2 separate regions of the Homo sapiens genome follow, and region 1 is linked to region 2. A link means that fine-mapping ties the variant in region 2 to the expression of a gene that starts in the linked region. Tissue or cell type: lung. Region 2 holds a variant in brackets; the other region holds the start of a gene. All regions are shown on one strand. Distances are between the middles of the regions.

Evidence for each region. PIP is the estimated chance that this variant, and not a neighbour inherited with it, causes the effect. A credible set is the group of variants that fine-mapping cannot tell apart.
Region 1: it holds the start of PCDH20, and the variant in region 2 is the best candidate, but not a certain one, in a credible set for the expression of PCDH20 in lung (TOPMed, PIP 0.58).

Annotation. Positions count from the first base shown.
Region 1 is chr13:61,413,181-61,418,445 of GRCh38, forward strand. It overlaps PCDH20 (protocadherin 20), which reads right to left and starts at 2,669. Exons shown (of 2, transcript NM_022843.4): 1 at 1,847-2,669; 2 at 1-786. The coding sequence starts at 1,978.
Region 2 is chr13:60,796,133-60,801,397 of GRCh38, forward strand. No RefSeq gene overlaps it. Among named protein-coding and RNA genes, the nearest start is that of LINC01442, 120 kb to the right of the region's middle. The variant C/T (reference allele first, on the strand shown) is at 2,560.

The sequences.
Region 1 (5,265 bases), 620 kb after region 2:
GAGAGTGGCACTGCCCAAAAGTGGTGGAGACCCACCATCCTCAGCTATGATGATGCTCACATACTGGTCCTGGGTTTCCCTGTCCAAAGCACCCATGACAATTAGGTAGGGGGTGCGCTCCCCATTCTCATTCTCCTCCACGTCCAGGGTGAACATACCATGGTAGTCCAGTAAGCGATAGGTCTGTACCCCATTAATGCCTACATCTGGGTCCACAGCAGGATGCTCTATGGCCAGTCGGGTGTTTACAGGTGCATTTTCCGGGACCCACACCGAGATCTGGGAAACAGGGAACTGCGGGGCGTTGTCATTGATGTCTCTGATGGCGATCTTCACCTTCACAAACCTGAAGTATTCCTGAGGCAGGACAAGCACATCCAGCAGCAAAAGACAAGAGTCAGAAGGAGAGGAGGAGATGGAAACGCTGCCGCTCCACGCAGTCCCTCCACCCCCTTCAACACACAGGGCCTCCCTGTCGATCTCCTGAGCTGAAGTGTGCAGCTCCCCAGAGCGGTTGTCTAGGGTCACGTACTGGCCACTCAGTCCCCGGGAGGCCAGGCTGAAGGAGAGAGGGGGGTTCCACTCAGCACCGGTGCGCTCTGGCAGCTGCGACTGCGGGTCCGGCCTCCCTGCAGACCTGGGCAGCAGCCGCAGGTCCTCGGCCAGGCTGCCGATGAGCACCCCCGCGGGTAGTCCCTCGTTTAGGCTGTACAGAAGCTCGGTGGCCCGGCTGTAACTCCCGAGGCAGCTGAAGGGTCCCACGAAGAGGAAAAACAGAAACAGATGCTGGAGTTGGGGGAGGGAAGAAAGCTCATTACACACACGGGGAAATAGGGGTCCGAGAGAGAAACTAGCGCCCCTGTGATCCTTGCTGTCCCCATCCCCGTTCCCAGAAGCAAAACCTCTAATTAGAACGGGGGCGGAGAAGAACCCTGCTGCGAAGGAGAGATCTGTGGGGCAATATCGTCTCCAAAACTTAATTTTGCTGTTCACTTTCTATCCCCTCCGCCCCCGCCTTCCCCCCTCGTTTCCCCATCACCACCCTCATCCAGCTAACATTCAGAATCCCAAACCGTAAAACATCCCTGGAAACACACACCGGAGTGGAGAGGATTCCGACTCAGAGACTGCGCAAAGCGACACGGAAACCCAGGGTAGGTGATGGGGAGGGAGGGGGCTGGTAGTAGAGAGCACTGAAAGGTGGGCAATTTATTTCTCCTTGAAGTGATTCTGCCATTAGAGTGCTGGAACACGCAGTGTGTTACATCCCTTACTAAGAGAACCATAAAAACAACCACAATCGCAATAATAATAATAATATAGAAAAAATACCAACACTTCCTCCTCCACCTCCAACACTTTAGGTCTTAGGTCGGAAAGAGTGATTTTTATTTTAGCACACATCTGAAATCAAACCGAAAGGATCTGGATTTCCACCCCTTACCAAGCAGTCACTAATCCCCCTCCCTTAGGGGGAAGCAAAGTAAACGCGGAAAATGGCTATGCAAAAACAATTTGTCAATTGCAGTAGGCATTCATAGCCAGACGCCAGCAGCAGGAAACGATCCCGAACCCCTGTAGCTAAAGCGGATTGAGCGCACCCCCGATGCCCTCGACCTTATCTGGATACATTTCTTGCTTCAGAAACTTCCTCTCATGACCCACGGACTTCCCTATTCCTTGTTAAAAGGAAGACACATTATCCCAAACTCCCTTTCCCTCCCGGCGCCATCCTTCCCGTGAAGTTTAGATAAAGGTAGAAGGTTTGAAAAACCATCCGAGTGGGAATTGCTTCACAATACTGCAACTTGTCGGGGTCGCGGGGTTCCTTGACCCTAACCCTTACCGGCAGGTTCCTGTAGCTGGTGCTGCTCCTGGGACGATGTAGACGCCCCATATCCAGGCGCGGGTGCCAGGTCGCCGGGCACCAGCTCACTCCCAGGGCCTGTGAGCTGCGCGCATTCCCTCGGCCGCGCATTCCCTGGGAGGCTGCAGTCAGAGCGCTCTTGAAGGGAGGGCGGCAGAAGACACTCCCTCTCGGTTCATGCAAATCGCTGGGGGAACTTCAGCCAATAGTCACTGGCTCTTCAATTAAGGACGGGAACTCAAAGAGTGGCAGAAAGGCAAGAGGGCAGAAGGGCACATTCATGGTTTCCTGCCCCGGACGCAGGTAACTCCATACTCTGCCAGAGGAGCTGGAATGGGGGACTTGCTCCTGAAGACTGCGAAGAGGCAGCTCGGGGTTGGGCACAGTAGCGCTTACCTACCAGCCTCCTTCCTTGCCGCACCAGTCAGATGCCAAGTCCACAGGTTGCTAGCAAGAGAGGGAGAATTAAAATAAATAAATAAGCTTGCATTTGTATATGGATGTAACAGAGAGAGGAAGTCGGCGCCACAGAGCAATCACAGGCGCGGTCCCAAAACGCCTGCTTTGCCAACAGTTCCTCCTGGAGCCTCGGATCCAGCAGTGTTGGCACAGAGAAAGAAAATGCACTTTTCTCAGCGGAGGGAAGGAATCTCAACTTCTGTGTAACGTAGGGTGAACCGGAAAAGTAAATATATGAATTCAGTGAAGGTTTCGACATACCCCAATTTTGAATCTTTGCTGTGGGCAGTGGTAGAGCTTCTGCTAGTTTCCTAGTTGGAGGCTCAAATGTCTCTGGGTGTTTGCCTTGTGGTCTTATTTTAGAGGCAGTAGTGGCTTCTGGATGCGGGGAAGAGCCAAGGGGAAAGTAGAAACAATTGTGCTGTAACACAAGTAGTTCTGCCTGCAAGTAATCTTAAACATATTTATCTAAGCGGTAAATTGGTGTGGGGAGGGGGAGGTATTCACTGAAGCCTAGGTAAAACATTGGTTATTTTTCAAATTAGTCCTTCCTTCCTTGTTTCCTTCCTTCCTTCTCTCCCCCCCTCCCCTCTTTCCCCTTCCCCCTTCCCTTCTTTCCTCTTCCCTGCTTCCTTCTTTCCTTCCCCCTTCTTTCCCTCCCCCTTTCCTCCTTCCTTCCTTTCCTTCCTTCCCCTTCCCCTCTTCCCCTTCCCCCCTTCCTTTCTTCCTTCCTTCCTCCCTCCCTCCCTTACTCCCTAGCTCCCTCGCTCCCTCACTCTCTCCCTCTTTCCCTGCCTCTCTCCCTTTCTCTCTCTCTTTCTTTCTCCTGGATTGCCTACTGGAAAACTGGTCCTTCATAAAGGAATTGTGGAAGAGTGTGGTGCCAAATGATTGCCTATCTTCTATGGCTTTGACACTGAATAGCTATGTAACCTGGAGTCACCTAACTCCTGGCCTTCTGTTTCCTCATTTATAAAATCAAGGCTAGTGGGATACTCCAGTGCATTAAGCCTCTGAAACACTTTTTGATCTGCAGGTTGCCATGTAAGTAATGGAAAAGCCCATGATTCGGCCTTTCCTTGAGAAGACATTTCTCTTCATCGCTAGGCTTCCAGATATCCTCTGCAGGGTCCTGAACATAAAACCTCACATGCTGAATGACCAGTGACTGAGCCTAGAGTGAAAAAAGGTCTTTGATACCTGATTTCCATATGCTTTCTGTAGGAACTACTTCAATTTTCCCCTTCCACCAAATGCTAACTAGAATATAAATTGCTTGGCTGAGCTAACTGTTTTGCTTCCTATCCTTCCTATTTTCTCCTCATTTCTAATAATCCTAAACACAGAGTCCTAAATATGGACAACACACTACATCAAAACACCTGGAGGGTAACAGCTTGTTATTGTGCAAATGGGGCTGTACATGGAGTTCACAAGTCTCTCTATAATACAAATTTGGCATACAATTTGAACCTGGCTGGTAAAATCAGTTCCTTCAAACCCTTTACAGTGAAAATGGAGCACTGATGAAGTGGTAAACCTCAGCCCCCAATCACCATCACCCCACCCCTCACCCCCCTACCCCTCTCCCACTCCACCTCCTCCCCACCCCACACACACACTCAAAGGAACATGCACATCTGAGTTGAAGGTTGGTAAACAAGCTGCAGCCAGGGAAGCATGATCTCCCTCCTTGTGCTTTTTAGCTGCTGGTTCTGCCCTACAGCTGAACTTTTGCCATATTAGTAAATATTTACTTTGAGGTCTGTAGTTGAAACATACTTGACTCCCCAAATCAGTACCAAGCTGCTTCTGAAACGTGTTTAACTTACATCTTTATACAATACCCACAGCTTCCCGAAGTTGGAGGCCCACGGCCAGAGTTAGGCAATCTGTCAGCAGTCAGAGAACCTGCAGTCTGCAACAATTCTCCCCCAGAGACAGAGCAGCAGAGTGGGCTGTTTATCCGCTCACAGCTCATGCCCTCTGCAACAAGTTAAGATCATCCACCTTTTTGGTGGAAACGTAGGGAGCTATTTTCTTCATTTTTCCTTTGTTATAAGGACATTGTACAGGAGCTGTTGTTTATGATGATAGTCCAGGTGAAGTGACATTTTCTCTTTGTAATTATATCTCAAGTTTTTACTTTTCCCTGGCCCCTTACTCTCCCTTTCCCTACTTTGCAGTGGTTGCTTGTAGTACAGATGCACTTCCTTTTTAAAGTGTTTCCCCCAGCCTACACCAGCAGAATCTTCGTCTTCTGACCCTATCACCCAGCTGGTCTCTGTGGAAAGGGTTATTACCACACCTCCCTTTATTAAGTTGAAAAGAAATTAAATATACCCATTTGGCCATAATTATTCTCTAGAGTGTTTCTAAAAACCATAAACATGAATTATAGCAAAAGTTCTTCATGTAAGTTGAAACACTAGTATTGAACACATCTTGAAAATAATGTTTGGAACGACACTAACAACCACATTTGCTTTAAGTGACTACGGTGATTGCAAAGTCCCTGCATGGAAGTTTGTCATCAAGATTGGGAGATCTTGGCATAATATTGAACAATACCTTCCACGTCGCATTTCAAACCATTCACTGAACTACTTGTTATTATCTTTCCTCTCTGAAAATCCAAAGGTTTTACACAATGTTTATACCCTAATTGGGCTTAAATAAAATAAAAAGGACTAAATAGACATCTTTCTTCCCATGTATCCCTTCTCTGGGCCTTGTGAAAGCATTCCCAAACTCTTATTCCTTATGATGCCAGCCTGCGACCTACCTTCTGGTGTCACATATTTCTAACGATGACTCAGAAAGCTTCTATGCTATTAGTCCCTTGAAAATAATACTTATGAACTTCTTAGACGTCTCAATTGCTCTGGGCCTGCTTCCCACATGTTTTGTAAAAATCGATCTAGAAGAATAGTTAGATT
Region 2 (5,265 bases):
TCAGAATAGGTCTTCTTAGCTAAGGGCCACAGATGAGACTTCATGGGATCTGGATATTGTGTGCAAAGTTGCATTGGATTTGAGTTTATGGGGCTGTATCTATGCATGTTTCTTATAGAGGGTTTACTTATGTTCATTCCAATAAAGAGTGGTGAATGGTCAGGAGAACAATTCTTTTGGGATTTCACCTTTGATATGTGATTTTTTAGGCCAAAAAAATGCTCTCAGTAATCCAAGGCATGTTTTTAGTATATAAAATATCTCAGAGGAGTCACAGATTCAAAAAGTCTGAAATTTAACTTAACCTTTTTAATGTATTAGGGTTCTCTAGAGAAACAGAACATACACACACACACACACACACACACATATATATACACATCCCTCAATATATAACACATATATATGTATTAGTATATATAATTTGTTCTGTTAGAATGTATATACACACATATCTCCTTATAATATGCATTATTCTGTTTATATATATACATACACATACACACACGTACACACATATCACTGTTGGTTATTTATTTATTTATTATAAGGAATTAGCTCAGGCATATGGAGGTTGCAAGTCCTAAATCCACAGAGTTGACGTCCTAGTTTGCAGGTTGTCAGGCAGGAGAATTCTATCTTATCTGGGGGAAGATCAGCCTTTTGTTCTATTAATAACTTCACCTTATTGGATGAGGGCCACCCACATTATGAGGGGTGATCCTACTTTACTGGTCTACTGATTTAAATGTTAATCCCACCCAAAGTGGCCCTCACAGACACACCCAGAATAATGTTTGACCAAATACCGGGGTACCCTGTAGTCCAGTCAAGCTGACACATAAACTTAACTATTATGTCTACAAACCTGTTATTCAAGGGTAGATCCAAGTTCTTTGAGGCTTACAGCTTATATAATTGTTTGGAGCTCTCTTCATACATTCATGGAGATCTATATTAATAAATACTTCTATCCTCCCTCATGCAGTTAGCCATTGTAATTTCTGGCTTTTTAAAATTCACACCATGGCTGCAATATTTCTTCATTTGAAAAAATTTATTGATTTATTATATGGGAGGCACTCTGATAATGTTTTCAGGGTTCATATTAGGAGCAGAGAATTAAAAAATAGGAACACAGGAAAAAATCATTACGTCATTGTGTTAAAAGCAACAGGAGAATTTTTTAAGTGGAATGGTGACACATAAGCTCCATGAGATGAGAGTTCTTGTCAACTATTATGTTGTCAGATATACCACAGCAACTTTTACTTAGTAAATGCTCATAAACATCTGTTGACTCGATAATAGTAGTGTTAACTATAATATGTATAATTAATCAAGCAACATCACTGAAGCAATTATTTTAATCTTCACAAAAGTTGCATATTGTAACCTTTCTCTATAAGGAGAAGGGAAAATACATTTTCAAAGTCCAAATCACATTTCTCTCATAGTAATCACATTACTAATATCAATTAGGAGGTATTTCATTTAAGGCAACTGCTGTTAAAAAAAAAATAAACCCTAAATGTGTCATTGCTCAACCATGATAGAAAAATCACTTCTTGTTTACTTATAAAACTGATACTCCTGATTTGTAACTCTTGCCAAAGCAATAATTCAGGGACCTGATTTTTTTTCCTCAATGCCTATATCTTCCTTAGCAGTGGCTTCTATAATTACCATGGTTATCTTTATTAGGCTTGTAGCAGCTGAAGAAATATGGAGAATTATGCCTGGAAATTTTTCATAGGCTAGTCCTATAAGAGTACTTACAAAGTCCTTTAAGATTACTTAAAACTCAGTCACAGCCAAACCTAACAGCCAAGTAGCCCAGGAAAGGTAATCTAAACCCATGTCTAGGAAGAAGATAAAATGGGTTTGATGATCCCAGTCTCTGCTCCAGCAGAGGAAGCCCTCTATTTAAGATTTAGAGATCAACAAAATGACGTAGGTATATGGGAGGCATAGAGAAGGTTGTAAGTCAGCAGCCTCATTGAAGCCTTTGATCCAGCTGCAATATTCAAGAGTTATTTGTGAGATTCTTATAGAAATAAAATCTATCAATAGCTAGCTGCCCTCTCCTCTGTCTCTCAATGTAACCACTTAACGGTTTGAAAAATAAAAGATTGTAAATTGTAAAAAACAAAAATAAAACAGCTTTATGTCATAGATACTGTTATCCTCATTTTACAAATGAGATTAAGACACTAAGATCACACAACTAATATGAAAGTGCAGTGTCTTTCCAGAACACTTTCTTTTTAAATTAAGTAAAAAAATTCCTGTTTATGTCACTCTTTCATTCAGTTGTACTTGACTGTACACTCTTTGAAAAACCCCACCCAAAGAATCACGAAACTGTGCTATCTCAACTCCGTCATTATGGCACCACTAAATCAAGAGAAGCCACCCCAGGCAGACCATGGCAGAGGGCAGGCCAGTGACATCAGGGGATTCCATGGCCTCTGGCTTCTCTCACACTTGTGTTTGGAAATGTGAGTTCTTAACATTAAAAGGGAAAACAGGCCAGTTGTAAGCATGCCACTTTACACA[C/T]GAGCAAACACATAGTGCAGCACACTCAAGCACTTAGCCAGATTTTGAGAAGAGTGTTAGTCATTAAGCCAATAGTGGAAACTGTGTAGGAGAATTTTCTTTAACTTGCTTCTCTATCAGTCCAGAAAGAGAAAAGAGGAAAATTGCGAGAAAGCAAGATTCTTAAAGACGGCTTGGAAAAAATGCTTTTAAAAAGAAACTACAAATAATGACTATGCCTGTGTATTGCTAGGCAGCATTTATTCACTTATGACATTGTTACTGAAATGTAATTCTTACATAAAGTGATTATCTACTGAGCCAGAGGTCCGTGGGTTTTGATTTCTATCCTGACTATATATCCTATTGAGAGAAGCTGTGATGTTCCTTCCATTTCTGAAAAAGGCAGACTTTTTTAGGAGAGCAAGGCTTTGCCACATTAGATATGAAATTGAATAGTTATATAAAATAAGAAATGTTAACAAATTAAAAGTTGAAAACATCCCCAAACACCCCAAAATTTAGAAAATATCAATTTTTAATAACTGCTTTACAGACCTCTAAATACTTTTTCTTATTATTTTTTAGCTGCATAAGTATTGGTACCTTTTTAAATAAAGACAATGATTTTGTTATATGTTTTTCAATACAGAACAGAAACATAATTTAGTCTTTTCATTTTTGAAACTGTTATTGGAAATATAGTGAATTTTGAACATGGTTGACACATTTTGAAAACCACCCTCAAACTTACTCATATGTACATTTTAAGATTTCAGAACCTTTCAAGTTGTTTTATGTATTGATTAATCTTTTTTATTCCTTTTTTTTTTTTTTTTTGAGACAGAGTCTTGCTCTGTCACCCAGGCTAGAGTGTGTTGGTGTGATCTGAGCTCACTGCAACCTCTGACCTCTGGGTTCAAGCAATTCTTCTGCCTCAGCCACCCAAGTAGCTGGGATGACAGGTGTGCGCCACCATGCCCGGCTAATTTTTGTATTTTGAGTAGAGACAGTGTTTCACCATGTTGGCCAGGCTGATCTTGAACTCCTAACCTTGTGATCCACCCATATCGGCCTCCCAAAATGCTGGGATTACAGGTGTGAGCCACTGCGCCTGGCCACAGTGATTAATCTCAAATACTCTTTGAATTAGTGATACTTATGAGCTGGCTTTTTGTCAATATCTGTATTTTATTTTATTTTATTTTTTATTATTATTATACTTTAAGTTTTAGGGTACATGTGCACAATGTGCAGGTTAGTTATATATGTATACATGTGCCATGCTGGTGTGCTGCACCCATTAACTCGTCATTTAGCATTAGGTATATCTCCTAATGCTATCCCTCCCCCCTCCCCCCACCCCACAACAGTCCCCAGAGTGTAATGTTCCCCTTCCTGTGTCCGTGTGTTCTCATTGTTCAATTCCCACCTATGAGTGAGAACATGCGGTGTTTGGTTTTTTGTCCTTGCGATAGTTTACTGAGAATGATGATTTCCAATTTCATCCATGTCCCTACAAAGGACATGAACTCATCATTTTTTATGGCTGCATAGTATTCCATGGTGTATATATGCCACATTTTCTTAATCCAGTCTATCATTGTTGGACATTGGGGTTGCTTCCAAGTCTTTGCTATTGTGAATAGTGCCACAATAAACATACATGTGCATGTGTCTTTATAGCAGCATGATTTATAGTCCTTTGGGTATATACCCAGTAATGGGATGCCTGGGTCAAATGGTATTTCTAGTTCTAGATCCCTGAGGAATCGCCACACTGACATCCACAATGGTTGAACTAGTTTACAGTCCCACCAACAGTGTAAAAGTGTTCCTATTTCTCCACATCCTCTCCAGCAGGAAACAAAAGTTTCCTGACTTTTTAATGATTGCCATTCTAACTGGTGTGAGATGATATCTCATTGTGGTTTTGCTTTGCATTTCTCTGATGGCCAGTGATGATGAGCATTTTTTCATGTGTCTTTTGGCTGCATAAATGTCTTCTTTTGAGAAGTGTCTGTTCATATCCTTCACCCACTTTTTGATGGGGTTGTTTGTCTTTTTCTTGTAAATTTGTTTGAGTTCATTGTAGATTCCGGATATTAGCCCTTTGTCAGATGAGTAGGTTGTGAAAATTTTCTCCCGTTCTGGAGGTTGCCTGTTCACTCTGATGGTAGTTTCTTTTGCTGTGCAGAAGCTCTTTAGTTTAATTAGATCCCATTTGTCAATTTTGGCTTTTGTTGCCATTGCTTTTGGTGTTTTAGACATGAAGTCCTTGTCCATGCCTATGTCCTGAATAGTAATGCCTAGGTTTTCTTCTAGGGTTTTTATGGTTTTAGGTCTAACGTTTAAGTCTTTAATCCATCTTGAATTGATTTTTGTATAAGGTGTAAGGAAGGGATCCAGTTTCAGCTTTCTACATATGGCTAGCCAGTTTTCCCAGCACCATTTATTAAATAGGGAATCCTTTCCCTATTGCTTGTTTTTCTCAGGTTTGTCAAAGATCAGATAGTTGTAGATATGTGGCGTTATTTCTGAGGGCTCTGTTCTGTTCCATTGATCTATGTCTCTGTTTTGGTACCAGTACCATGCTGTTTTGGTTACTGTAGCCTTGTAGTATAGTTTGAAGTCAGGTAGTGTGATGCCTCCAGCTTTGTTCTTTTGGCTTAGGATTGACTTGGCGATGCGGGCTCTTTTTTGGTTCCATATGAACTTTAAAGTAGT